Homo sapiens: one gene and its partners. The protein of the gene in region 4 purifies or fractionates together with the protein of the main gene of each other region. This does not show direct contact. Each region holds a gene or a part of one and is shown on either strand. Other genes may lie near its edges. The genes, in order: ADPRS, MRAP2, ABLIM2, FRMD6, RGS3, FBN2 and SHMT1.

Region 1 (3,987 bases), on a different chromosome or scaffold from region 4:
ACTCCCAACCCCTCTGCCTCCAGGCACAGTACGGCCTCACCGACGAGGTTCACCAGCTAGAGGCAACCATCGCTGCCCTGAAGCAGAAGCTGGCGCAAGCACAGTAGGTCTCGGGAGTGGGCGGAAGGAGCAGTGAGACGCTGCCCACAAATGGGGCCTCTTGCTGGCTGCTGGCTCCCTGGGGCTGTCTTCCTGACTGAAGGCTATGCACGCAGCCCAGGCCTCCCAGCCTCATGGGGGCTGGGGGGTTGTCAATGTCCTTCCCTAGGGACGCACTGGACGCCCTGTGCAAGCACCTGGCCCGGCTGCAGGCTGACATTGCCTGCAAGGCCAACTCCATGCTGCTGGACACCAAGTGCATGGACACACGGCGCAAGCTGACCGTGCCTGCTGAGAGGTTCGTGCCTGAGGTGGACACCTTCACACGTACCACAAATAGCACCCTGAGTCCACTCAAAAGCTGCCAGCTGGAGCTGGCCTAGCCTTGGAGGACTGCAGGAGGAGGGCAGGGTTGGGTGGGCAATGGAAGGAGGGAGGAGAGAAATGAATGGAATAAATGCAGAGGATCTCAGGCCGGCTGTTCTCTGCCCCACTGTATGTAGCCAGCAGGGAGAGGGTTCTTGAACACCCTCCTGTCTATGGAGGAGCAAAGATGGGGAACACTATTCCTCCGAACTCCATGTACCAAATCCAGTTCTTTCCCTCCCCTCAGGGCACCCCTCTCTGGGCTGGGTCAGCACTCCTGGGCTGCAGCAGCGCGGCCTCTACCTGGCTGTGTCCCAGTTGGCCCCTGGTCCGCCCTCCTGATGCTTAAGGGAGGCCCACAGGGGGCAAGGGCCCGGTGGGAGGGCTTGGGGGTGGTCCCGGCCTCGGTGGGGAGGGCCGGCTGGGGGTGCGGAGTTAGGGTTGCTCGCCTGCGGAAGGCAGTGTGGGCTGCAGTGATCCAATGGTCTGGCTCAGTGCCCATCCCCCGGAGACCCCATAGTGGCCTTCCCACCCAGTTAGCCCAGTGGTGAGGAGCGGAAAACCGAGACTCAAAGCACAGGCTGGCGGGAAGTGCGCGGCGCCGCGACTCCGGGCCGCTGGGCGGCGCTGTGGGCCTGGCGGCGGAGTGGAAACTCTAGGCCCCAGGGAGCGCTGCGGACGGAAGTAGGGAAACTGTGAGGGCGGCACCGGAAGTGGCGAGCAGTCTGCGCGCGGATGGCCGCAGCGGCGATGGCGGCAGCGGCAGGTGGAGGGGCTGGCGCGGCCCGCTCCCTCTCGCGCTTCCGAGGCTGCCTGGCTGGCGCGCTGCTCGGGGACTGCGTGGGCTCCTTCTACGAGGCCCACGACACCGTCGACCTGACGTCAGTCCTGCGTCATGTCCAGAGTCTGGAGCCGGACCCCGGCACGCCCGGGAGTGAGCGGACAGGTGGGCGGGGCCGGGCGCAAGTCAGAGGCCGTGCGGGAGGGAGGCCGAAGGGGCGCGGAGCCTCCGGGGGCGACGGGTCGGGGGTGCGCGGGGATGAGGCTGCCGAGGGCACCGGGGCCAGAGCCGGATGACCCGCAGACAGCTTGAGCTCAGCGAGTGCCAGTGCGATCTCCGGCCTTATAGACGTCTCGCCCCGAACATCCCGTGCTCGGGGCGTGGCAGCACCGGGGCCTCAACCGTGCAGGGTGTGGATAAACCCATCGTAAGTTGAAAATACCTGAAGTGGAAAGTGCGCTTTCAGCTTAGACGACCGTTTTATCTGGACGCAGCCCCATCGGACGTCGAGGAGCCTATGAATGCGTATCAGCGTTATCAGAAAGCCGAAAAAAACTTAAGTTGAACCATCCTAAGTCGGGGACTGTCTGTCCACCCTTGCCGACTTGACCTCTTTTTCCCGGTTCTCTAGAGTCAGTATACCACCAGCCCGTTCTCCACCCCGCAAGGCGTGCTTTGGAAGCCTGACTCTAATCGCGTCCTCCCCTGCCTAAAACCCTGCTGTGATTTCCCATTACCCTTAGTACAGAGCCACATTCCTTAACGTGTCCGACGTGGTCCGGCCCTCCCACACGTCTGCAGTTTCGTTTTCCGCCAGCCTTGGCCTTGCTTTCTGCTCTTCGGTTCCTCACACCATGATTCCTCTAGGCCAGGCGTTTGCATGCGCTGTCTCGCCTGTAAAACTAACTTCCCTTCCCTTGTGGGCTCAGATCCCGGCTCAGGTAGCAGGTGTGAGGTCAAGCAGAGGAGGTGAATCTTCTTGGAGAGCAGGTAGCATAGTAAGAAGAAAGGGCCATGGTCAGAACCCTGGAGAACACCGGTAATTAAGAGGGAGGGAGGGAGGGAAGGGGATTAGGGAAGGAAACAGTTTGATAGGAGGAGAAGCAGGAGTGGCTATCAACGAAACCTAGGAAAAGAATTTCAAAATGAAGACACTGATCACTGGTGGTGTGCTCCAGAGAAGTGAAGTAGGAGGAGATCTGGATCCAGAAACTATCATTTTCAATCTGGGTATGGTGGCGCACACCTATAATCCCAGCTACTCCAGAGACTGAGGTGGAAGGATCATCGCTTAAGTCCAGGAGTTCGAGACTAGCCTGGGCAACATGGCAAGATCCTGTCTATAAAAAAGAAAAACAAAACAAAAACAAAAAGACTGGAGCTGCAAGGATGGCAGCCACAAGGGGATGGAAGTTTTCTTTCAGAAATCAGAAGATCAAACCATGATGTAGGCTCATAATAAATAAATACATAAAATAGAAAGCAGCAGGACTGACTTGGAATAAAGAATTGCTGAAAATCCCATTGCTGAGATCCTAAGGCTTCCCAGGCCCACGAAAGTGAATGGGAGTGAGAAACTGATTTGAGGTCATTTTAGATGTGGTAACTCTGAAACATGAGTAGAGGCTGGGTGCCGTAGCCACAACTGTAATCCCAGCGCTTTGGGAGAGTCCACTTGAGCCCAAGAGTTTGAGACCAGCCTGGCAACAGGATGAAACTCCATCTCTACAAAAAAAAAAAAAAAAAAAAAAAAAAGCCAGGCGCAGTGGTGTGCACCTGTAGTCCCAGCTACTCGGGAGGCTGGGGCAAGAGGCTCCTTGAGCCTGGGAGGTCGAGATGGAGTGAGCCATGGTCGTACCACTGCACTGCAGCTTAGGCAACAGAGTGAGACCCTGTACCAAAAAAATAATAATATAAACTAAAATAAAAGGTGAGCAGGGCCAGGCACAGTGGCTCAGGCCTATAATCCCAGCTCTTTGGGAGGCCAAGGCAGGAGGATTGCTTGAGCCCAGGAATTCAAGACCAGTCTGGACAACAGAGTGAGACCCTGTCTCTACAAAAAAATAAAAGTAGCTGGGTGTGATGATGCATGCCTATAGTCCCAGCTACTTGAGAGGCTGAGGCAGAAGGATAGCTTGAGCCCAGGAGTTCAAGACTGCAGTGAGCCATGATTGCACCAGTGCACTCCAGTCTGGGCAACAGAGCGAGACTCTGTCTCCAAAAAAAGCAAAAAACAACAACAAAAAAAACAAAGGTGAGCAGGAGGCTCTCATCCTCCCTCCTCTCCCCACAGAAGCCTTGTACTACACAGATGACACAGCCATGGCCAGGGCCCTGGTGCAGTCCCTGCTAGCCAAGGAGGCCTTTGACGAGGTGGACATGGCTCACAGGTGAGGGGGATGGTCCTGGGCTGAGGCAAACCAGGTGGGAAAGTTATTGCACCCCTTGACCAGAGGAATGACATTTGTGCATGTCCACGCCCCCAACCCTCCACAGAAGCCTGTGTCAGGCTGGCACAGCTTCCCAAGCTAAAACAGCAGCACTGCTGGTGCAGGCTCCTTAGGCCCCCGAGGCTTTCTCTTTTTCCAAACTAGCCTCGATTTCTTCTCTCCCAACCCTTAGAGGCATCTTGTAAATCTGAATTCTGTCTCCCCTTCTGTTCCCTAGATTTGCTCAGGAGTACAAGAAAGACCCTGACAGGGGCTATGGTGCTGGAGTAGTCACTGTCTTCAAGAAGCTCC
Region 2 (3,500 bases), on a different chromosome or scaffold from region 4:
CTATTTAACTATTTATTGTCTGTCTCTCCCACTAGAATGCAAGCTCTATACAAGGAAATATTTCTGTCTTTTCAGTTCACTGTTGTCTCTCCAGTGCTTAAAATAGTACTGCACATAACAGGTGCTCAATAAATATATATTGAATGAATGAATAAATAAATAGGTTTCCACTTTGTTGGTGCCAAATCTGTATCAGATACATGTCCACTTCTGATACATGATAAGGTTTAATATTGGATTCAAAACTGATGGCAAAAGAATTCTCAAGCACCATCTGAGGTTGCTTCTCAGATGAAACACCCTTTGAAGGTAGGAATCTTAATTTCAGCAGAGGAACTCAGTCTAAAGATGGAGCTATTGTTGCCAAGTGTGATCCATTACAGGTAAGGCAAATAAAGATAACTGTTATGGTCATTCCTGTCCGCAATGAGTGCTTCCCCTTGAAATGTCCTGCTTCTGTTCTTTTGAATCTGCATCTAATTAGCTTTGAATTTTGCCCAGCAAAACAAGGAGTCATACTTGAAGGTCAGAGTCACAGCATTTTTAAATGAAAGAGACTGTACCAGAGCACACATTTCAACAGTTGACTTGATCTTTTCACTTTCCTGTATATCTGGGGTTTTGTGTTTGTTTATTTTTTGTTCTCAATGTGTCGCATATATTTTCAGGTTCCTGAAGCTAAGGGCTGCTACTTATCAGCTCTCTTATATCAGAACAGTAAGTGCTCAGGCATTTTTGTTTTATCTTGACGTGAATATTAAAATTAACAAAAGCAATTGTTATTAATGGTATAGTAGGTAAAGTAAGTAAGTAAGGAATGAGTCACACCTCTGCCTATGTTTCTCATGAAGTTTTCCAGCTATAATTATTTCTAGAATGTAATATCCTCAAAAAATATTTTATTCAATTGTCTCTGGAAATGTACCAACCAAAATTACAGCAGCAGGCCTGTCTTCTGTGCTTCTTAAACTAAGGAAAAGAGATAGGAGCAAGCTGACACAAAAGTAAAGTTGATGTCACCAAGCAGTAAAAGCCCACATTTCAAGAAAATATGTGGCAATTTTCCCAGTCATTTTGATATCCACTATAATTCAGAACAAGCAATTGTCCTTACATAAAGGTTATCCTAGAAAAACAACATATTAAAGAATTTAAGTAAATTAAAGAAGGTGATTTCACACCCAACAGCCTTCTCTCAGATAATCAATGACAGCATACCTTGATAAATGCCATGTGCTTTTTTTCCACAAAGAAATACTGAGCAGATGTCAATAAAGGAATGAATGAAAGTATTTAATTATTACTACTCACTTAAGGGGTAAAGGACATATGGTTTAATTAATGATTTTTGCTAAAGGAACAAAAATAGAAAGCCCTTCTTGCAAAAGAGCACCAAGTTGGTGCAAGAGATCATGAATGCCAAGACAGGTCAGGATAGAAGCAGCCAGGAAATAATTAAAGGAACAAAAACACTTTCTTTGCTACATTTGTTTCTCTGATTCTAAGCCCTCTTATATTTCCTAATGTGTCCCACTAACCTGGACCAGTTAAGAGCATAAAAATTTTACAGTGCTGTGGATAATTCACTCTGACAAAAGTGAACATTTCAGGGATATTTACGGGGTTACCAAGACAGGATCTGAGACTGGGCAGCAGTTCCTGCCTACCATGTTAACTGTTAACTCTACCTAATGAAGCAAGGATGTTCCATGCTGGCCAGTCAGCATTCAGTTATGACTGGAGTTGAGTAGCAACGTCTCACAGAATTACATTTCCTTGCTCTGTGCTGGACCCTTAATTACTCCAATAGCATGAAACACAATTCATGCCTAGAACACAGTGTTAGAAATGATCGCAGGCTATTCTGGTCCATCATTATGAGCACACATGGATACACTGCTCTCCACAGCTCCAGGAAACCAACTGGGATGAAAAGATGCTGCTGTGTTACAAAAGAAGGTTCTTCAAATAACAGTTCCAGATCCTATTTTTATACATATTTTTGATAGTTCAAACATTCACAGTTTGGAGGAGCTAAAAAAGCAAATGCTTTTTAAAAATTCTCAATCTCAGCTTGACATTGATTCATGTTCTCCTACTATGGGAATTTTTTAGTCTTTCATCAATTAGAATCACCAAGGCCCTCCTGTACCATTCCTGAGCAATCAGCCTATGTGTGGAGGCGAGATGTTTTGTAGAATTTGGGAGGTAGAGGACAGAGAGTTCTGTAAAGAAGAAAGAATGCTCAGGAGAAGTAATCCTTGGGGATTTCACAGGTTAAGAGAAATACAATTATGCTTTCAATGAGGAATTGTATAAAACTTACATTTATGAGCCTTCAGTCCTTCAAAGGAAACTGGTCCAATCTCATAATATTCATATTCCCAGGTGTAATCAGAATTAGATGCCGATTGCTGGGAGGTTCTGTTAGAAATTAACCTCTGGGCGGACATCTCCGACCTGCACAAATGGAGAAAGTCAAGCGCAGAACCTGTTAATTCATCCAGAGCTGCACAGTTACCTTAATTACTCTTGATCGCATTCAGGAGTTTGGCAGCAAACCCCTTGAGGAGGTCTTACCTCCTAGGCCAGGAGAGGTTCTTACCAGCTGCTCACACCTCATATCATGTGGCCACTACTTCCTTTTCTCTTGCCACTAGAGTGGAATAATGTATTTGAAATCAGACACTGTATATTTTTTTGAACTTAACCCAATGCCTGGCACATAACAAATGTTCAGTAACTGATGAAGGAAAGAAGGAAAGGAGGGAAAGAGTATGTCAAAATCTCTGAGCTTACAGCTTCAGCCTCAGCACCTATACCTGCAAGAGTATGTAAAGAGCCTGCTGAAACTAGTTCATTGCTGATACTAATTTGATGTATTACTCAATCTCAGATTGACATTGATTTATGTTCCCCTATAAGGGAATTTTTTAGTCTTTCATCAATTAGAATCACCAAGGGCCTCCTGTACCATTCCCAAGCAATCAGCCTATGTGTGGAGGCGAGATGTTTTGTGGGATTTGGGAGGTAGAGGACAGAGAGTTCTGTAAGAAGAAAGAATGTTCAGGAGAAGTAATCAAATTAGTATCAGAAATGAACTAGCTCAGTAGGTATCCATTCAACACCTACTATGCAACAATGGAGATGAGCAACCTAAGGTTTTGTTTGTTTGCTTTTCTTGCTTCCAGTGGGTTTGGAGGAAACTAAGTTTAATAAAATGGAGTGAATAAAGAAAAACAGGCAGCAAAAGTTGCATAGTGGATCTTGCAGAAGATACTCAACAGAAGTCCACAACTTGTCCAACTGCTTACTCCTGAAATTTATGATATTTTCAGGATTTCCCAAGTATCTTTGTTAACTGTGACTATTTTAGACCAAAAAATCCTGACTTCTTTGGGAGAAGATGGTTGCACTGCGCAGCACGGATACCGAAGGTGATAAGTCAATGCAGCCTGTGTTCAATAACTGTGTTTGAGCACCTACTGTGTGCAAGACAC
Region 3 (3,500 bases), on a different chromosome or scaffold from region 4:
GAGTGCAGTGGCGCGATCTCGGATCACTGCAAGCTCCGCCTCCCAGGTTCATGCCATCCTCCTGCCTCAGCCTCCCGAGTAGCCAGGACTACAGGCGCCCGCCACCACGCCCGGATAATTTTTTGTATTTTTAGTAGAGACGGGGTTTCACCATGTTAGCCAGGATGGTCTCGATCTCCTGACCTCGTGATCTGCCTGCCTCAGCCTCCCAAAGTGTTGGGATTACGGGTGTGAGCCACCGTGCCCAGTCAGAGGTCTGGGTTTTAACCACCTTGTGGTGACCTTGGCATACTCAGGACAGCTAGAATCTGACCAGCAACCTCCCAGATAACGGCTGGGGCTGGACATGCTCACTTGCCTGGTGCTCCCGGGAGTGGACTCACAGCACTGGAGTGGGGCACCAGAACCACTGCCACATGTTTCTCCTTCAAGGAACAGCTCACGCCGTCACGTCTTTAAGAAGAATAGAGAAATACAGAAATGCCAGAGCCATGAGTGCTGTGAGCCCAGTCACCATCCAGCTACTGTCTTGGGGCAGGTGGCGCTGACATCAGAATACTATAATGCTCCAAAGTGAGGCCCCCAAGTCTCTGCTTCTCCCCAGTTGGGATGTATTTGCTTGGTCTACGCTATGGTGCAAGATCGGACAAAGCATTTTCATCCTCAGCCCAGGTTTCCTTCTGGATTTTCATGAGCCAGAGCATGGAGTGCAGAGCAAGGGCACCCTGGCCCAGGGCTGAGGCCCACCTGTCTGGAGCTTCCCTTTGATGCTGGGAGTCCTTGGCTGTTTCTCATAAACGCCCCGGAACGCCCAGGAGGAGCGAGTGCAGGCATCTTATACCATGCCCTCATCCCTCCCAGACCATCTAGATGGGATTTCGTTCTGAGTTTTCATTTTTACCTTGAGACAGAATTCAGAATCAGCATCTCTGGCCTTGGGCCTCTTAGGAGCAGCCATTAGAGCAGCAGCCAGGGCCTCGACACTGAGCCAGGCAGGACTCAGGTCTCACATCGCACTGGCTCACGGGATGCTCATCTGTGCTGCCGTGTACCCCTCTGAAGTAGGTTCTGTGTGCTAGATGAGGACAAGGAGGCCCAGAGAGGTTAAGGAACTTGCCCAGGGACACACAGCACACTACGCGGGTAGAGCTGGGATTCGAATCCCGGCAGCTCCGGCATCTGGAATCTAAGCTGCTCGGTTGACGTCTCACCATATCAGAAGAGCTAACATCTCTTTGGAGAAATGGAGACAAGTAAACCCTGGAATGTAGGCGTTCCAGCCACTCTGGTGCTTCCAGCCAGTTTGTTCCCAGAGCTCTGTTGGGGGTTTTGTAGGCAAATGTTGAGGGTCTTGCTTTGGCCTCGATATCCCACTGGATGCCCTCAAAGGAATGATGTAACAGTTAACTTTAAAGGTGCCCATATTCACAATGTGCAGAAACGACGTCCTTTGCAAGCAATTAACATTGTGATGAAAACTTTTAGATGTCAGGTTTAAAATGTATGAGGGCTACATGGTTTCTCAAAGCCCTTCCTTGGTGGCTGTAAGCTGCATTGACCCAGCAGGCAGGACCCAGGACTGACCAGGCCAGAGGGGCTGGGGCTGCAGGGGGTTCCTCTGTGACTCTAGCAGGGAGGGCCTGGGCCAGCTGGGTCAGGGGAGGCTGTGGGCTGCTCCCTCTGAAACCATGCATGGCCTGGGCACTGGAGGGGAAGCTTGTGGGAGGAATGCGATCGGGTCTCAGGACATGGACTGGGGGCCTCTGAGCTGGTGGTGACCAGCAAGTTGTCCTGAGGGCGAGTGTTCCCTTCCCTACCTGGCAGAGATCCCTCAGCCCTCCATGGAGCTCCAGGGCTTCAGCTTCCTGGGCCGGGTGTGTGTTGGGAAAAGAGACAAAGTGCTTCCCTTTCAGGAGTCCACAGGCTCTCTCCTCCTGCAGGTCTGGCCTTGTTCACACTGTGGGGAGACAGGCGTCGAGGGCCATGAGGGCATGGAGACCCAGAGGAGTGGGGGAGGGGGTGGGAAGCCTAGAGGTGGGCTGGAGGCACCGACCACAAGGACCTGGTCTGTCCTCCTGGGAACCTTCGGCCCCCAGCACAGAGTCTAGCACACAGTAGGTGATCAGGCATTAGCCCCTTCCTGATCTGTATGCCCAGTGCTGGAAACAGCCCACTGGAGGACAGCAGGGGCTCAGGGACCATCCCTGGCGGGGTCACAGAGGCTGGGGGCACTCTAGCGAGGGTGGGAGGCTGGGCAGCCCCTCAAGAGAGCCTGGCTCTTGTCCCGGTCAGTGCCCTTTCCCAAGCTTCTGTAAGGAAAGTCCACTCACCACCAGGCCAGGGGCCAGAGCTGGAGTCTGTCCCAGGAGCCCGGCCCGCCGAGAGTTGAGCAAGCCACCCCAAGTGTGTGCCGAGGCCTCAGTGCCTGTGTCAGGTGGTGGTGTGTGTGTGGAGGGGGGTGCACCTCGGGCCTGGGGGACGTGGAGATGGTCCCCTCTGCCGCTAACGCCACCTCGCCCGTCCTCCCCCAGCATGTGGCTGCGACCTGGCCGAGGGCGGCTTCTTCGTGCGGCAGGGCGAGTACATCTGCACGCTGGACTACCAGAGGCTCTACGGCACCCGCTGCTTCAGCTGCGACCAGTTCATTGAGGGTGAGGTGGTGTCGGCGCTGGGCAAGACCTACCACCCCGACTGCTTCGTGTGTGCCGTCTGCCGGTGAGTAAGTGGGCACCTGGCCTCTGCTTCCCCTGCCTCTCTGGGCCTTTTCTCCTTCCCTCCCTCCCTTCCCTTCTTCCTCCTGCTCCCTCCCGTGACCCGCCCTCTGCATCCTGCAGCGAGGCTGTTCCAGGCCCCACAGTCTGCACCCTTCTGTCTTGGTGCATACAGAGGCCTCCTCACAGGGAGCTCCGTGAGGGCAGGGGTGGGCTGCCCCGCTTTGGGTCTGGTGCATGGCACAGAGCAAGCATGCAGCAAGTGCTGGCTGCGGAGACTGGGTCCTCATCCCGGCAACAGGACTGCACCGGCCCCGCTCCGCCTGCACCTCCTGGGGCTGAGCAGGAGCCTTCCTACGTGGTCCCTGCCTCCCCCTTCCCTCCCCAGCCCCTGACTCGTTCCTCCCAGAGGAAATGTTCTGTTTCTAGAAAACAAAGAAGAGAAACATGAAAAACAGTTTGTTTTCTGTTCTGTACTCCCTGTCTCACCACACCGTGTTTGCAGGGGACGTTTTCAATGTTGTTTCCAAAGCAGTTCCCTGTGGTTACAGCGTGTGCCGGAGACAGAAATGGAACCTTCGTCAGAGGATGCTAAGGACAGGAGGTGACGATGACAAGGAGTATGTCTAGGGAGAGTCGCTCTGTGTCATCGTAGCGTGACCTGAGTCAGACCTCTCTCTCCCAGGGATTATCCGAGTGTTTGATTTTTGTGTACGTGGCTTAGAGATGAGGGTTGACATCTCACAGTTGGTTTGAAAGATCGCCTCTGGTTAATCCATTATTTTAAAA
Region 4 (3,500 bases):
TACCAGCTAAACCATAAACTGTAGAAAATAAACTACAATGAGCATAAGGGGAAAAAAAAACCTCCACAATTAAAAATTCACTTTAAAATTCAGCCACATCCTTTAAGTGCTCATCTGTAATAAGTATATATAGTGTATAAAGTTCAAAATAGAAATGAAATTACTAAGTAAATATTTTCATTATGAGATTTCCCAATAAACACAATGAGTATGCAGAGATCTTTTTAAGCTTAGTGCCAGCTTTCCCATGAACATGGGATGAAATATTTTTAAAACATGTGTCCTCACCTGGCATTATAAATATAAGACACAGCCTATTTCTACTATTTAGGCTGTTTCTTTCCAACTAGTATATTTTTACATCAAGAAAAACACATATAGCATAAGCTTTAAGAGGAGAAACTAATCCATCATTATATGAGTTTTGGTCAATTTCGCTTTCAAGGATGTACAGATTGCTTTCCAAAATAAGGCTATGCTCATAAAAATGCTGGTTTTCAAGTATACGGTATATATTGGTGGGAAAGGGGCACAAAACGGGTTTTTTTTCCAGAATGTTCCCTTGTCCTTTGTCTACCTTATTTCCCGTTTATGAGCAGCTCCTAAATGAAGCAGATTTAATGGCTGCCGCTGAATTTCTCCAAAGAATAAAAACTGTGAATCAGCCAATATCTTTTCCCCCACTTCATTATGTTACATTTTTACTAAAAATCTTTTTAGCAGATAAGAGTCATTTTCTATGCAATTCAGAAGCGCCATACTTTAAGTAAACTTGAAAATTAAGTTTTACACAGAAGATAAATTGGGGATATCTACTTCAACAAAAGATTCTTATTTCTTAATAGGATTCTTTAAAATAGCAAGCTTCCCCAGCAAATAAGGCAAAAAGCAATTAATGGTTATTGAGCACTCACTAATGTGCCAGGTATTCCACCTCATTATTTCAGATTCATTATCTCACCAAAGCCTCCCAACCTTGTGAAGCATATTGTATCATCCCCACTTAATAGACAGCTCAGGATTATAGTTGCCTAGGATCCCAGCTATAGCGAGTAGTGACATAGGGTTTCTAATTGACATCTGATTCCAAAGCCACACTCTTACTCTTTCCAACATATCATTCATACTTCTAATACATTTTAAAATATAAACTAATTATCAAAACTGTCATTTATTTGCATTTTCTTGTGTCAATTGAGGTGTCACAAATAAAATCTCTTCAGGCTAAAAAAAAATTACAACTCAGTCCTTTAGGAATTTAGCCAAACAGATCTTATGGAACTCAATTATGCCTTTCAAGGAAGATGGGGCATTAATAATGCATCTCTTGGGCATAGAAGAGAGATAGAAAAAACATCAGTTGGTCCCTTAAGTTTTCTGAACCAGCTAACAAGATTACTGAGCAATACATCCAAACTAAAGCCCAGTTTCCAATGGTCTAGCTATGCTAATCCTACCACAAAAGGCAAAGTAGAGATAACAAGCATAATACTATCAATGGTAATGGTAACAGCAGCCAACTTAACATCATGCTTAACATGTGCTGGGCACTGTTTTAAGCAGTTTTTCATCCAACAATTCCTTTAGTATTCAGCAATCCTAAAAAGCAGGTATGTTGCTGTCCCCTTTAACTATGGGGAAACTGAAGTACAGAGCGGTTAAGTAAGTAACTTGCCTGAGGTCACATAGTAAGAGGCCAAACTGAGATTCAATCCTAGGCAGTTAGGCTCAACTTACAGTGCTCTTAACCACTTCATCCATTTGGTTTGAGAATACACCTTTGAATACTTAAGTGGGTATTCAGGAGTTCTTGCCAACAAAGTGGCACTTATGGAATAGTGAAAGGGGTTAGGAGGAGGAGGGGAAGAGAAGACAAGATGATATAGAGTACTGTGAGTGATTCCCTGCAGAGCATGGCCCCAGTTGTTATTTGGGTGTGTGACCTCTGCCCCAGAAAGGAAAAACGAGGCTAGAGATACACGGGACACAAAGGAGAGTAACTTCCGAGAGTGAGGAACGTGTGGAATACAGTGCCTTAGGCTCACAGCCTATGTTATCAAGAAGGCCTTGACTAAATCCTGGCTTTGCCATTTAGTTTTGTGATCTTAGGTGATTCATTTAATCTCTTTAAGCCTCAGTTTCCTGGACTGTAAAATAAAGATTAAAGTACCTTTCATATAAAGTTATGAGGATTAAAAAAAACACATATAAAGTGTGCCCAGTAAACACAGGACTCCATAAACATTACCTGTTGTGGTAATGTTCTTGTAACTGACGGATACAACGCAGGTATAGCTTCACTTTGAGGAATATTAAAAATTACTTATCAAAGAAGTTGCAAATGCTATTCCCCAAAGCAGAAAAGCAGATTTGGGGAGGAGAGAAATAACAATGCCATAATCACTAAAAAAGTCAGATTAACATCTTATAGCCAATTGTCATCTCACTATTAGAACCATTAAAAAATACTCCACCCCGCTTCCAGGCCAGAGTAAAAGCACCATGGCCTCCAAGACTGACGTGCGATAACAAAAAGCAGTTCAATGAAACTCTTTTAAAAGCATGTAAAAAATGAAATAAGTTTTAATGGAAATGAAATCCTTCGGTTTTCCTTCTCAATCCTATTGAGAAGATGTTTTTTTCTCAGAAGCTGAAGACTTAGTTGCCGTTTCATACCTTATACAATCTGTAGTAATGAACAGCGACGTCATCCAGTCGGACAGCCTCTTTGATATATTTAAGATGAGCTTCGGAAGCTGTTAGTGCAAACTGATCTTTGTGCATGTTTGGAATGTGCTTCAGGATGTAGTCCTTCCCCCTCTTGGAAACAACCTGTTGGGATACAAGGGGTGTGCAATGCAACATTTGTTGGAGAGATGTAAGTTCTACCCCCACCCCCAAAATGATGAAAGAATGAGAAGCTAAAATAGGCCATGTAAACTGGTTGGTTTGCATTGAAAATTCATTCTGTTTTCACCATCTGTTATGTTACTAGGCTAAATCAGCTAATACTAGAAGCTATAGAGTCAATTTAGTTGTACTGCTGAATACCTAAGAAGAAAAATCACAACAAATAGGAAAAATAAGTTATCTTTGCTTTAAAGTCACCAAGAGAAAAACACTACACAAACTTTCATAATTTTGTACACATAATTGTTTATACTTGCAAGTTTATACTTGGTACCATGAAATACATCTATAGTAGGCACATCTTCAGGTTCTGGATCCTACCTAACTCTTAAGAAAATTTCAGCCACAGACTGGGAGGTTCTAAATGTTAATCAAAAGAAGGCAGGGTACTGGGAGAAATTCTCTAAAACATTTTTGGTTCTTGCATAAGAGGCTGATATGAACACTGCTGGAATACTTATGAGAAAACCGTTTCATTCAAACACTCATTGTGATTCACTGTGACTTAGATTTTCATCAGACAGTACTCTGGGCTTTCAGATGTCAAATATATAGTATCCAGCAGCTGCAGGCTAAGAGAAAGGTGTTGA
Region 5 (3,500 bases), on a different chromosome or scaffold from region 4:
GTTGGAGGGAGGAATAGCAGCACCTGTGCCAGGCATCTGCCCTTTAGGAATGCTCTGCTCTAGCCAAAGAATGCTTGCCTCTACCTCTCTGTTTATTCTAATCCTGTTCATCCTTCAAGGCCAAGCTGAGAGGTATCTTCCTCCAGAAGCTTTCCCTGATGGCTTTAGGCCCTGGGGTCTGTCCTCCTGAAGTTCTAGATCTCTGAGTCAGTTGTGCTCCATGGGCACTGAGCACCCCTACTCACCTAGCCTCACACCAACACCTTGCACTGGCTGTTGCATTTCAAGAGAAGGAGTGGGGCCCAGCATTCCCTGAGGGCCGCCTCTCAAGCGGCTAGTGTTATCAGGCACCAGCCTCTTCCATTCATCCTCAACCATTCTGGGATGTGAGTGCTATTAACCCCTACTTTTCAGAGAAGAAAACTATGGCTCAGAGGAGTTGAGTGACTCAACCAAAGCCACATAGTAAGAAACAGAGCCCAGACCCAAACTAGCTGGTAGGCTTCAAGATCATGGCGCAATCTGTTCACTGTTAGGCCACTTTCAAGGCTCACACAGTTAACTTATTTCTCTCAGGTTGAGACCAGCCTCACACACTTCTGTGGCTCCTGCCATGTTGCAGAGCGCAGGGCCTGGTACACAGCAGGAAATCCATAAATACTTATTCATCTACATATAAATATTCACGAGAGGCAAACGGTGTGGTGGTTGGTTAAGAGCACTGGCCCTGGAACCAGATTCTAATTCTAGTTCAGACACTGATACACTGTGTAACCTGGAGCAAGTTAGATAACCTCTCTTTGCCTCGGTTTCCTCTGCTGTAAAATGGGCACAAAAATACTATCTACTTCAAAGGGCTGTTGTGAGAGTTAATGAGTTAATGTAAACTGCTTAGGATAATGTGGACACGGAATAAATGTGTGTTGTCATTGTGACTGGCTGATGGATTTCTAGTCTGGCTAGGCTGTAACTCTATTTCTCCAGCTACTATCTCAGATCTTTTAAATCCAAATACACAATGGCCTGGGCTAAGCTACACCTGCTCTGCTTTCTGTGGGGACCAGTGGAGCTATAAGAACACAGCATCTGGAATCCTAAAGTCATGTGTTTAAGTCCATGCTCTGCCTTCTTGGTCCCATTGGGCCTCAGTTTTATCTTCTGTCCAACAGGTGGAAAGTTCGCTGGGAGGCTGCCAGGATAGTGGGGGTGGAACATGGTGACTTCTCATTCCCTGCAGCCCCTGGGCCAGCCCTCCCCACATTGCATGTATCCTTCTCCCTCCCCCTTTAGCTTTCTCACCTTCCTGTGTCCTGTGAAGAAGAGGGAAAGGTGGTGCATGGAGCCACCATTGCGGCCCAGCTCTTTCTTGAGGGTGCTGGGCGAAGGCATGCCCCAGGTGGAGGCGGCGCCCTCACCGTCTGAGCAGTGCAAGGTGGTGTCGGAGGCAAAGCAGGGCCCTCGGGGCTCCTGCAGCAGGCTGCCCTCGCTGTGCGTCCGGCGCCGCAGCGAGTTCTGCACACGCAGTGAGAGGCCACCCTCAGCCCCCTGGCCCGTCTCGATCATGCTGCTGCGCTTGGCCTCACTGCGCTCTCCGTAGTTGTCATCGCTGGTGTCCTCATCCTCGTCCTCCTCCCCTTCCTCCCCCTCCTCCACCTCCTCGGCCTCTTCTGCATCCTCCTCATCTCCCGAGCAGCCCTGCTCTGCCCCTGCCTTCTGGCTGTAGGTGCTATCCAGCCGGACCTCAGGGATCACGAAGGCTGGCCTGGGGGCCGCAGGTGGGTCCCCAGTAGCTGCTAGTAGGTCCCCGGAGCTCATGGTGTCCTCAGTAAGGGCCTTGGCTGGCAGGGAGACCTGGCTAGGAGGCAGATCTTGACAGGGTGGAAGGTCCCGGGTGGGGGATTCCTGGATGGCAGGGAGGTCTTTGGTGAGTAGAGGGTCCTGGTGAGGCAGGGGTTCTTGACCAGCAGGTAGGTCCTGGCAGGGTGAGAGGTCTTGGGCTGGAGGGGGTTCCTGGCATGGTGGCACATCCTTGCTGGGCGGAGCATCTGGGCCTGGAGGGGATCCTTCAGAGGTAGCTGAGTCTTTGCTGGACAGTGGTTCTTGGCTGGGAGCGGGTTCCTGCCCAGAAGGGGAGTCCTTGTTGGGTGGAAGGTCTTGTCCTGGAGGAAGCTCCTGGCCAGGAGAGGGCTCCTTGCTGGGTGGGGAATCCTCGGCACCAGGCCCCTTCCCTTCCTCCAAGGCCATCTCCCTCTTCTCATCTGCCTCCGTCTCAAACATCTGGGAAACAAAAAGAAAACAAGAACAGTTCAGAAGAGGAGGCTCCAAGATGCCAGACACCATGCATGAGCTGACATGAAATCAGGCAGTGGCCTGAACCCCGGGCCCCCAGTCTGAAAGCTGAGGTGCCAGATGGAACCCCCAAAGCCCCTTTGACTTAGCTGGGTAACAATTCTCACCCTGTCTTCTTGCTTGAACTTTCTGCTCCATCAAAAACACAGCTGGTCATTTATAGGAGAAGAGGGAGAGATAACCACTATCTATCTAGCTCCTGCTTTGGCAGGTGCCAGGCCAGCTTGACCCCACTCTCTTATGTGGCCTTCCCGACAACCCTATAAAAGAAGCATCACTGTCCCCATTTTACAGAAAAGGAAACAGGGTCAAAGTTGCCTCTGGGGATAAAGGAGAACCAGGCAGTCTCTGCTTATGGACCAGAACCAAGCCAGGGCAGTCACTGAACCCAGCCCAGGGTGTCTTCTACCTGAACTCAAGTTTAAAAAATCCTAATGAGTCATTCAAACAAGAATGTGCTCTGAACGCTTAAGTATCTTTTTGAAACTATTAAACTGGAATGAAACCGGAACTTTAAAATATTGTCCACACCTGGACTCACCAGATGTCGCAGACACACGGAACCTCCCTGAAGAATCACCCACCCAGGGATTTTTAAACTGCTTGGAGGAAGCTCAGGGATTCCTCAAAAAACACAGCATCTCCTGCCTCACACACAACCCTCGGGATCCTAGGGGGTTTTGCTGAGTTTCGACAGTAGATTTCATGTGCAAAGAGAAAAACATTTCTCTTAATGAAAGTCTGAATAGCAGCTATGTCACCAGAAGATTGGGGCCCCGAGAAAGTCAGGAGTGTCCATGGTGCCACAACCACACAGGGAGGCAGTTCTCAAGTCTGGGGTGGGCCCCTCCCAGTCAAGGACCAGGAATGCCGGAGCTGGAACTATTTATTTAGAGCCCAGGTTCTGTCTTCAAGAAGCCATAGCTGCTGAGAACTAATGAAAGGGAAAGACCTCACCCATACTCGGGAACTGAACAGATGCTTGGGAATGTGTGCACCTGCGGGCACACGCGCACACTGGCAGAAAACTTCAGGGGTAAGTACCCCCAGAACATGGGTTAAGAGCTCTCATTGTAGAAATCATTAATGTCCATTTGATGGATGAGAAAACTGAGCCCAAAGGCCGGTGACTTACCCACTATTGTACAGCT
Region 6 (3,500 bases), on a different chromosome or scaffold from region 4:
GGGACTATAAGAAGTATTCTTACACATAATTAACCAAATCAATGGAAATTTAAAAGAATTCTAATTTGCAAGATGAAAAATGCTTCTGACGCTCACTGCTATACAAGTGAGTAAAACTCCTGAAAACAGTATTATATAAAACTTAAACTGCATACTATATTCCAAGTGCTATCAGGTCAGGGATATTGTATATTTCATCCATCAATATATACCGAGTATTGAGAACAGATAGAAAGACCACAGATGCTCAACTTAATGGTTTCTAATTGTCTGGAAATCTTCAAATTATAATTTATATGTATAATCTCCCTAATTGTCATTGCACCCATATGAATTAGTCACTGTAATTATTTATTATTCCTATTTTATACATGAGAAATTAGTTTCAGAAAGGATACATACTCTGCAGGAGGTTCCACAATAAGTATCTTAAGAGTTTTGATTTAAATACAGACACGTCTCTCAACTCCAAGCCTTTCGCTTCTTCTCACAAAGAAAGTGCCATTTTAATTCCCCAAATCAATGATCTTAAATTTGTAACTATGGAGTTTTAAAGTTGAGAATTGTAGGAATGTTTCTATTTAATTTTATGGAACATAATAATGGCAAGATAAGGCTAAGAAAATCCATTTGACCAGTGAATTGGAGCCACTGAAAAAGGCCTATGTGTTGCTTTTCATCATTTCTCTCCTTAATTTCATCAATACATTAAATGGAACATTTAAATACATATACCCTAAGTAATATTTGGTAACAAATGCATAATCACTGTTTCTTATTTGGCCTACTGGTTCAACTCTTAGTATCTATAGTTATTAAAAGTTGCCATTCTCCAGGTCATAAAAGAGAGCCTGATGGACAGCAATTTTAAGACAAGCATTTTTGCTCTTATCTCTATTATCTTTCATTTTTTCTTTCAAAAGAAACTGTCTTGTGAAAAAAACATGACCAAGTGAAGACAAGCTCTATTTTTTGCCTAAAAATTTCACTGATGTCTGAGGAAGAAGATGTAAAAGGCACATTATGACAATGGGTTGCTTTTATGTAAAATTCGCTCATAAAAAACACTTTTTGCATATTTTCCACGGCTGAACTAAAAAAAAATCCTTATTGAATTTAGTTTTTCTCCAAATATTATACTTTCCATGTCTAGCACAGTGACATACAGTAGTTACTCAAGAAATATTTGTTTGATGAATAAATCAATAATTGACAAGCACAGTTTAAGATAATGAGTTTAAATGGACTAATGCTATCAACTCTAACTCTTCAGCAATGGATCTTATTTTCAGGATTCACAAGCCTATCCAACATAATGTCTCAGAAGTTAGTGTTTGAATCCCAAAGAGGATCACTTGGGAAACAGAACCATATGATGCTCTTGGGAATTTTTGGAACTGAGCATCTCTAGTTTTAGCATGCAGTGACTTTGACTATACTGTTAGATATATGCGTGTATCACTGATGTGGCAGTCAGCAGATGCACGAGCCGTGTGCTTACCTGTTCCTGGAGTTGGGCATGGTTCACAAGGTTTGTTCCAGGCTTTGCCCACATTATATGTGCAGCAGCACATCCTTTTTGTCACATTGAAAGGCAACTCATTCTCACAAGTGGTTCCATTATAGCTTCGGTAGCAAAAGCTTTTTCTCATGTCTATATAAAGAAAAACAAAGAAACTAGCCATTTGTATCCACGAGTAGTTTATAATGAAGCCCACACAGCTGTAGACATCAAGCTTTCCTGATGAACACAACTCGGAAACCCTTTTTAGTCATTTGAAGCTATCTTAAAATAACTCCTTAAACATAAATCATTTTTAGATTAACATCTCTCCTTTATCCTTAAAGGTTTTCACTTATAATTTTCTTGGGAGACAATGTTAATACATATTTGTTTTTCTCTCAAAATCATTTATTTAATTAAAAAAATAAAGCATTAAAATTTAAATGTTCTTTTATTTGTAAATTAATGTTCACACTATATGAATGGAGATGAAAAATTTAAGAATATATAACATTTGAGGAAATTTTCTACATTAGACTCATGCTTTTAAAAATTTAAATGTATACCCAAAGGTCAAAAACTTGATACTAAGCCAGCAGCTTGCAAGACTCTGAAATATCTCAATTCACGAAGACTGAACTTCCAAACTTCCAAACAATAATTCTGAGACGTAAGTGCTTTATGTGTGAAGTCAACAACTGTGCTCTAATTAATCTCAGAGTTCTTTACCTACCCATGCAGTTGTGGCCTCCATTGACCTGCATGTACTCAGGTGGGCAAATGCAGGTGTAATTTCCCAGGGTGTTATAGCAGGTCCCAGGCCCACACACACCAGGATGTGCAAAACACTCATCAATATCTAGAGTAGGCAAGAATATCTATTAATTAATAAATCTATTTTTTCAATGAATTTATATTACTTAGATGACTGAACAAAGCATAGGTGATTCTCTAAATCCCCATTTATGCAAAACTTAGAAATAAAGAAAATATCCCAAATATGCATTTATATAACACAGATACATCTTTCTTCAAAAGAAAAAAATCCCCATATTAAAAAATATAAAGCATCAAAAGAAATTATTCTAAAGTGGCAAAAAATAATTTCCTTGGCACATATATATATATATATATATATATATATATATATATATTTTTTTTTTTTTTTTTTTATTGCAATTCGCATTCTTCAATTGGAATTTCTTTAAAGCCTGCTTTTGTCCTATGTCACTTAGGCTAAGTTTTAATGCCAACTTTAAAGTGAATGCAGGTTGGGAAAGCCTTTGTCTTTGTAGCTTCTTTCAAATTAGTAACTATTCAGAGATTCTTAAAGCAGTGCAGCTGCTGGTTGTTCTCCTCATTACATCCTATTTCTTCCAGATACATTTATCAAACATGTTCCAAAAGAAAAGTTATAATGGAAATAATTACGCTACATGTTTAATGTTCAGTTAGAAGCATTCACTCATTTCACAATTAAAATATTGAGATTCTACTGTAAGCTAGAACTTATGGCTGTAATGATGAGTAAGATGTGGACCTTGTCTCCAGAAGCCCCCAGTTTAGTGGTGAGACAGGCCCCTAAAAGAATTGAAATACCATGTGATCAAGTGGGGGGATGGAAGCAAGAATGGCAGCTGCATAACCTTTGAACTTCTTCATACCATATAGTCCAACATTTAAAAATTACTGATCAATATTAAGTTAATGGTCACATTTTAGCTTACCAATTTTTCCTATGTAAAATGTAATTCTTATCAATATTTTCACTAATAACTTACTTAATATTTTAGGTTTTCACACTACCCCATTTTCCCAATTTATATTTAATCAACCCTCCTGGAAAAATACAGTGAATTATGGCAACGAGCCATAAATTAATTTGTCTATCATCATACAACTTAGCTACATTGATATGAAAAAAAAAAAAGCTATGAACCAATCTTAATTGAGCCTTTTGTAGAATGTGAGGATGGGCCTTTCCCTCAGGCCTCAG
Region 7 (3,500 bases), on a different chromosome or scaffold from region 4:
GGGCACGGTGGCTCACGCCTGTAATCCCAGCACTTTCGGAGGCCGAGGCGGGCGGATCACGAGGTCAGGAGATGGAGACCATCCTGGCTAACATGGTGAAACCCCGTCTCTACTAAAAAATATATAAAAAATTAGCCGGGTGTGGTGGCGGGCGCCTGTAGTCCCAGCTACTCGGGAGGCTGAGGCAGGAGAATGGCGTGAACCCGGGAGGTGGAGCTTGTAGTGAGCCGAGATCGTGCCACTGCGCTCCAGCCTGGGCGACAGAGTGAGACTCCGTCTCAAAATAAATAAATAAATAAATAAAAAATAAATAGGCCAGATGTGGTTGTTCACACCTGTAATCCTAGTAATATGGAAGGCTCAGGTGGGAAGACTGCTTGAGGCCAGGAGTTTGAAACCAGCCTGGGCAACACAGCAAGACCTCATGTCTATTAAAAATTAGCCTGGTGTGGTGGCACGCACCTGTGGTCCTAGCTACAGAGAGGCTGAGGCAGGAGGATTGCTTGAGCCCAAGAGTTTGAGGCTGCAATGAGACGAGATTGCACCACTGCACTCCAGCCTGGGCAAGACAACGAGACCTTGTCATTCATTTATTCACACATACATAACATTTTGTTTTAAACCCAGAACTTTGTTTTTAGGTTTGTATCAAGCAAAGTCATTAACGTTAGGTCAACACTGTTTTCTTTTTTTTTTTTCTGAGATGGAGTCTTGCTCTGTCTCCCAGGCTGGAGTGCAGTGGTGCGATCTCGGCTCACTGCAACCTCCGCCTCCCAAGTTCAAGCGATTCTCCTACCTCAGCCTCCAGAGTAGCTGGGATTACAGGCACGCACCTCCACACCCAGCTAATTTTTGTATTTTTAGTAGAGACAGGGTTTCGACATGTTGGCCAGGCTGGTCTCAAACTCCTGACCTCAGGTGATCCACCTGCCTCAGCCTCCCGAAGTGCTGGGATTACAGGTGTGAACCACCACGCCTTGCCTATTGTTTTCAAATATTGCCTTTGATTTTAAATAATGTTCCAAAGGTAGATTAATATTAAATTATATTAACAAAATATAATGAAAACATGTAATAATTACCTTTTATTTTTATTTTTATTATTTTTTTGAGACGGAATCTCACTGTCACCCAGGCTGGAGTGCAGTGGCGCGATCTCGGCTCACTGCAAACTCCACCTCCCAGGTTCACACCATTCTCCTGCCTTAGCCTCCCGAGTAGCTGGGACTACAGGCGCCAGCCACCACACCTGGCTAATTTTTTTGTATTTTTTTTTAGTAGAGATGGGGTTTACACCGTATTAGCCAGGATGGTCTCGATCTCCTGACCTCATGATCCACCCAGCTCGGCCTCCTAAAGTGCTGGAATTACAGGCATGAGCCACCACGCCCAGCCAATAATTACCTTTTAAAAGAGCCCTTTAATTGGCTGGGCACAGTGGCTCACGCCTGTAATCCCAACACTTTGGGAGACAGAGGCAGGCGGATCATGAGGTCAGGAGATCGAGACCAGCCTGGCTAACACGGTGAAACCCCGTCTCTACTAAAAATACAAAAAATAAATAAATAAATAAGTTAGTCGGGTGTGGTGGCACGTGCCTATAGTCCCAGCTACTTGGGAGGCTGAGGCAAGAGAATCGCTTGAACCTGGGAGGTGGAGGCTGCAGTGAGCCGAGATTGTGCCACTGCACTCCAGCCTCGTGACAGAGCGATACTCCGTGTAAAAAAAAAACAACAAGCCCTTTAACATGAATAAACGATGTAATTACACTTCTATTTAAGTTGTGGTTTTTCGGGGTTTTTTTTAAATTTAGAAACAGGGTCTCATTCTGTCACCCCAGCTGGAGTGCATTGGCAAAATCATAGCTCACTGCAGCCTTTGATCTCCTGGGCTCAAGCGATACTCCACCTCAGTTTCTTGAGTAGCTGAGACTACAGGCGCATGCCACCATGTCCGGCTAATTTTTAAATTTTGTTTTGGAGACAGCGTCTCACTATATTGCCCAGGCTGGTCTCAAATTCCTAGCCTCAAATGATCCTCTGCCCTGGCCTCTTAAAGCACTGGGATTACAGGGGTGAGCCACTACACTCAGTCCCCTTCTTTTTTTTTTTTTTTGAGACGGAGGCTCGCTATCGCCCAGGCTAGAGTGCAGTGGCGCGATCTCGGCTCACTGCAAGCTCTGCCCCCTGGGGTTCACGCCATTCTCCTGCATCAGCCTCCCACGTAGCTGGGACTACAGGCGCCCGCCACCTTGCCAGGCTAATTTTTTGTATTTTTAGTAGAGACGGGGTTTCACCGTGTTAGCCAGGATGGTCTCGATCTCCTGACCTCGTGATCCGCCCGCCTGGGCCTCCCAAAGTGCTGGGATTACAGGCGTGAGCCACCGCGCCCGGTCCCCCTTCTTAAAAATGTAGAAAACATCACCCCTTGCTCGATACATTGCTGTGAGAATCGAATGAAATATTAGTTTTGAAAACACCTGGTGTGGACCGGGTGCAGTGGCTCACAGCTCTAATCCTAAGCACTCTGGGAGGCCAAGGCAGGTGGATTGCTTGAGCTCAGGAGATGGAGATCAGCCTGGGCAACAACAGCCTGGGTGAAACTCTGTCTCTACAAAAAATTAGCTGGGTGTGGTGGTGTGTGCCTGTAGTCCCAGCGACTCAGTAGGCTGAGGTGGGAGGATGGCTTGGGTCCAGGAGACCAAGGCTGCAGTGAACCTTGATCACACCACTGCACTTCAGCCTGGGTGAGAGAAAGACCATGTCTCAAAAAAGAAGAAAAAAAAAAAGAAAACACCTGGTGTTAACAAAATACCTTAGCCTGAAAGAAGAAAGAAAGGAAGGAAAAAGAAAAAGAAAGGAGAGAGAGAAATAAAGAAAACACCTGGTGAATTCTTTAAGGCACAATGCAAAAGTTAGTTATTCACAATAGGAGAAAGACAATGCCTTCAACTTGATTCTCAGTCTTCTACATAGAGCTTCAGGGGCATCTCAGGACAGAATGGCAATTCCTTCTCCAAGGGTGACCTTTCTGTTTCCTTTGGGACAAAAATGCACACATTTGCAAAAGCCATGTCTAATTCTGTAATTTATTTTCTTTGCCTGATGATGACTGTAAAAAACAAAAACGAATATAACACTGTAATTCTGAGGGTGAAAGAGTCAACTGAAAGCCACTGCATGTGTAAATCCAACATTTATAATGCAGAAACGGTTTTCAGTAATCCAGATTCAGCCTCCACTTCCACACCATTCCCAATACAGACTCGATGACTCACATGGCAACGGCCACCTTCTGCAGCATCCCTCAGATGACACTGACCTTTTCTAGACAGAGGCCACACACCAGTCCAGTGGCTCAATACTCCTTACAAACTGGCCTGTTTTTCTAGAAAGCCCCCAAAGAACTGTGAAATGTGCCCCTGAGTACACCTGCGCTGAGCTCTTCAGTGTTATCACATGCTGGGAATAAAAGAGTTCTGTCAGAGAGCAGGCGTGGAA

Evidence for each region.
Region 1: the proteins of FRMD6 (region 4) and ADPRS purify together in Homo sapiens (co-immunoprecipitation; one large-scale study listed by IntAct). This does not show direct contact.
Region 2: the proteins of FRMD6 (region 4) and MRAP2 purify together in Homo sapiens (co-immunoprecipitation; one large-scale study listed by IntAct). This does not show direct contact.
Region 3: the proteins of FRMD6 (region 4) and ABLIM2 purify together in Homo sapiens (co-immunoprecipitation; one large-scale study listed by IntAct). This does not show direct contact.
Region 5: the proteins of FRMD6 (region 4) and RGS3 purify together in Homo sapiens (co-immunoprecipitation; one large-scale study listed by IntAct). This does not show direct contact.
Region 6: the proteins of FRMD6 (region 4) and FBN2 purify together in Homo sapiens (co-immunoprecipitation; one large-scale study listed by IntAct). This does not show direct contact.
Region 7: the proteins of FRMD6 (region 4) and SHMT1 purify together in Homo sapiens (co-immunoprecipitation; one large-scale study listed by IntAct). This does not show direct contact.

What each region holds. Positions count from the first base shown.
Region 1 is NC_000001.11:36,087,705-36,091,691, forward strand, and holds the start of ADPRS (ADP-ribosylhydrolase ARH3), read left to right. Parts: upstream 1-1,187; 5' UTR 1,188-1,200; coding exon 1,201-1,411; intron 1,412-3,539; coding exon 3,540-3,636; intron 3,637-3,913; coding exon 3,914-3,987. Other genes in the region: TEKT2 (tektin-2), read left to right, coding at 24-103, 269-482. UniProt on the Homo sapiens protein: ADP-ribosylhydrolase that preferentially hydrolyzes the scissile alpha-O-linkage attached to the anomeric C1'' position of ADP-ribose and acts on different substrates, such as proteins ADP-ribosylated on serine and threonine, free poly(ADP-ribose) and O-acetyl-ADP-D-ribose.
Region 2 is NC_000006.12:84,054,272-84,057,771, reverse strand, and holds part of MRAP2 (melanocortin-2 receptor accessory protein 2), read right to left. Parts: intron 2,461-3,500; 5' UTR 2,454-2,460; coding exon 2,327-2,453; intron 1-2,326. UniProt on the Homo sapiens protein: Modulator of melanocortin receptor 4 (MC4R), a receptor involved in energy homeostasis. Plays a central role in the control of energy homeostasis and body weight regulation by increasing ligand-sensitivity of MC4R and MC4R-mediated generation of cAMP.
Region 3 is NC_000004.12:8,096,314-8,099,813, reverse strand, and holds part of ABLIM2 (actin-binding LIM protein 2), read left to right. Parts: intron 1-2,531; coding exon 2,532-2,715; intron 2,716-3,500. UniProt on the Homo sapiens protein: May act as scaffold protein. May stimulate ABRA activity and ABRA-dependent SRF transcriptional activity.
Region 4 is NC_000014.9:51,707,410-51,710,909, reverse strand, and holds part of FRMD6 (FERM domain-containing protein 6), read right to left. Parts: intron 2,833-3,500; coding exon 2,677-2,832; intron 1-2,676.
Region 5 is NC_000009.12:113,582,227-113,585,726, reverse strand, and holds part of RGS3 (regulator of G-protein signaling 3), read right to left. Parts: exon of another isoform or gene 3,485-3,500; intron 2,278-3,484; coding exon 1,300-2,277; intron 1-1,299. UniProt on the Homo sapiens protein: Down-regulates signaling from heterotrimeric G-proteins by increasing the GTPase activity of the alpha subunits, thereby driving them into their inactive GDP-bound form.
Region 6 is NC_000005.10:128,307,746-128,311,245, forward strand, and holds part of FBN2 (fibrillin-2 precursor), read right to left. Parts: intron 2,364-3,500; coding exon 2,238-2,363; intron 1,655-2,237; coding exon 1,502-1,654; intron 1-1,501.
Region 7 is NC_000017.11:18,350,051-18,353,550, forward strand, and holds part of SHMT1 (serine hydroxymethyltransferase, cytosolic), read right to left. Parts: intron 1-3,500. UniProt on the Homo sapiens protein: Interconversion of serine and glycine.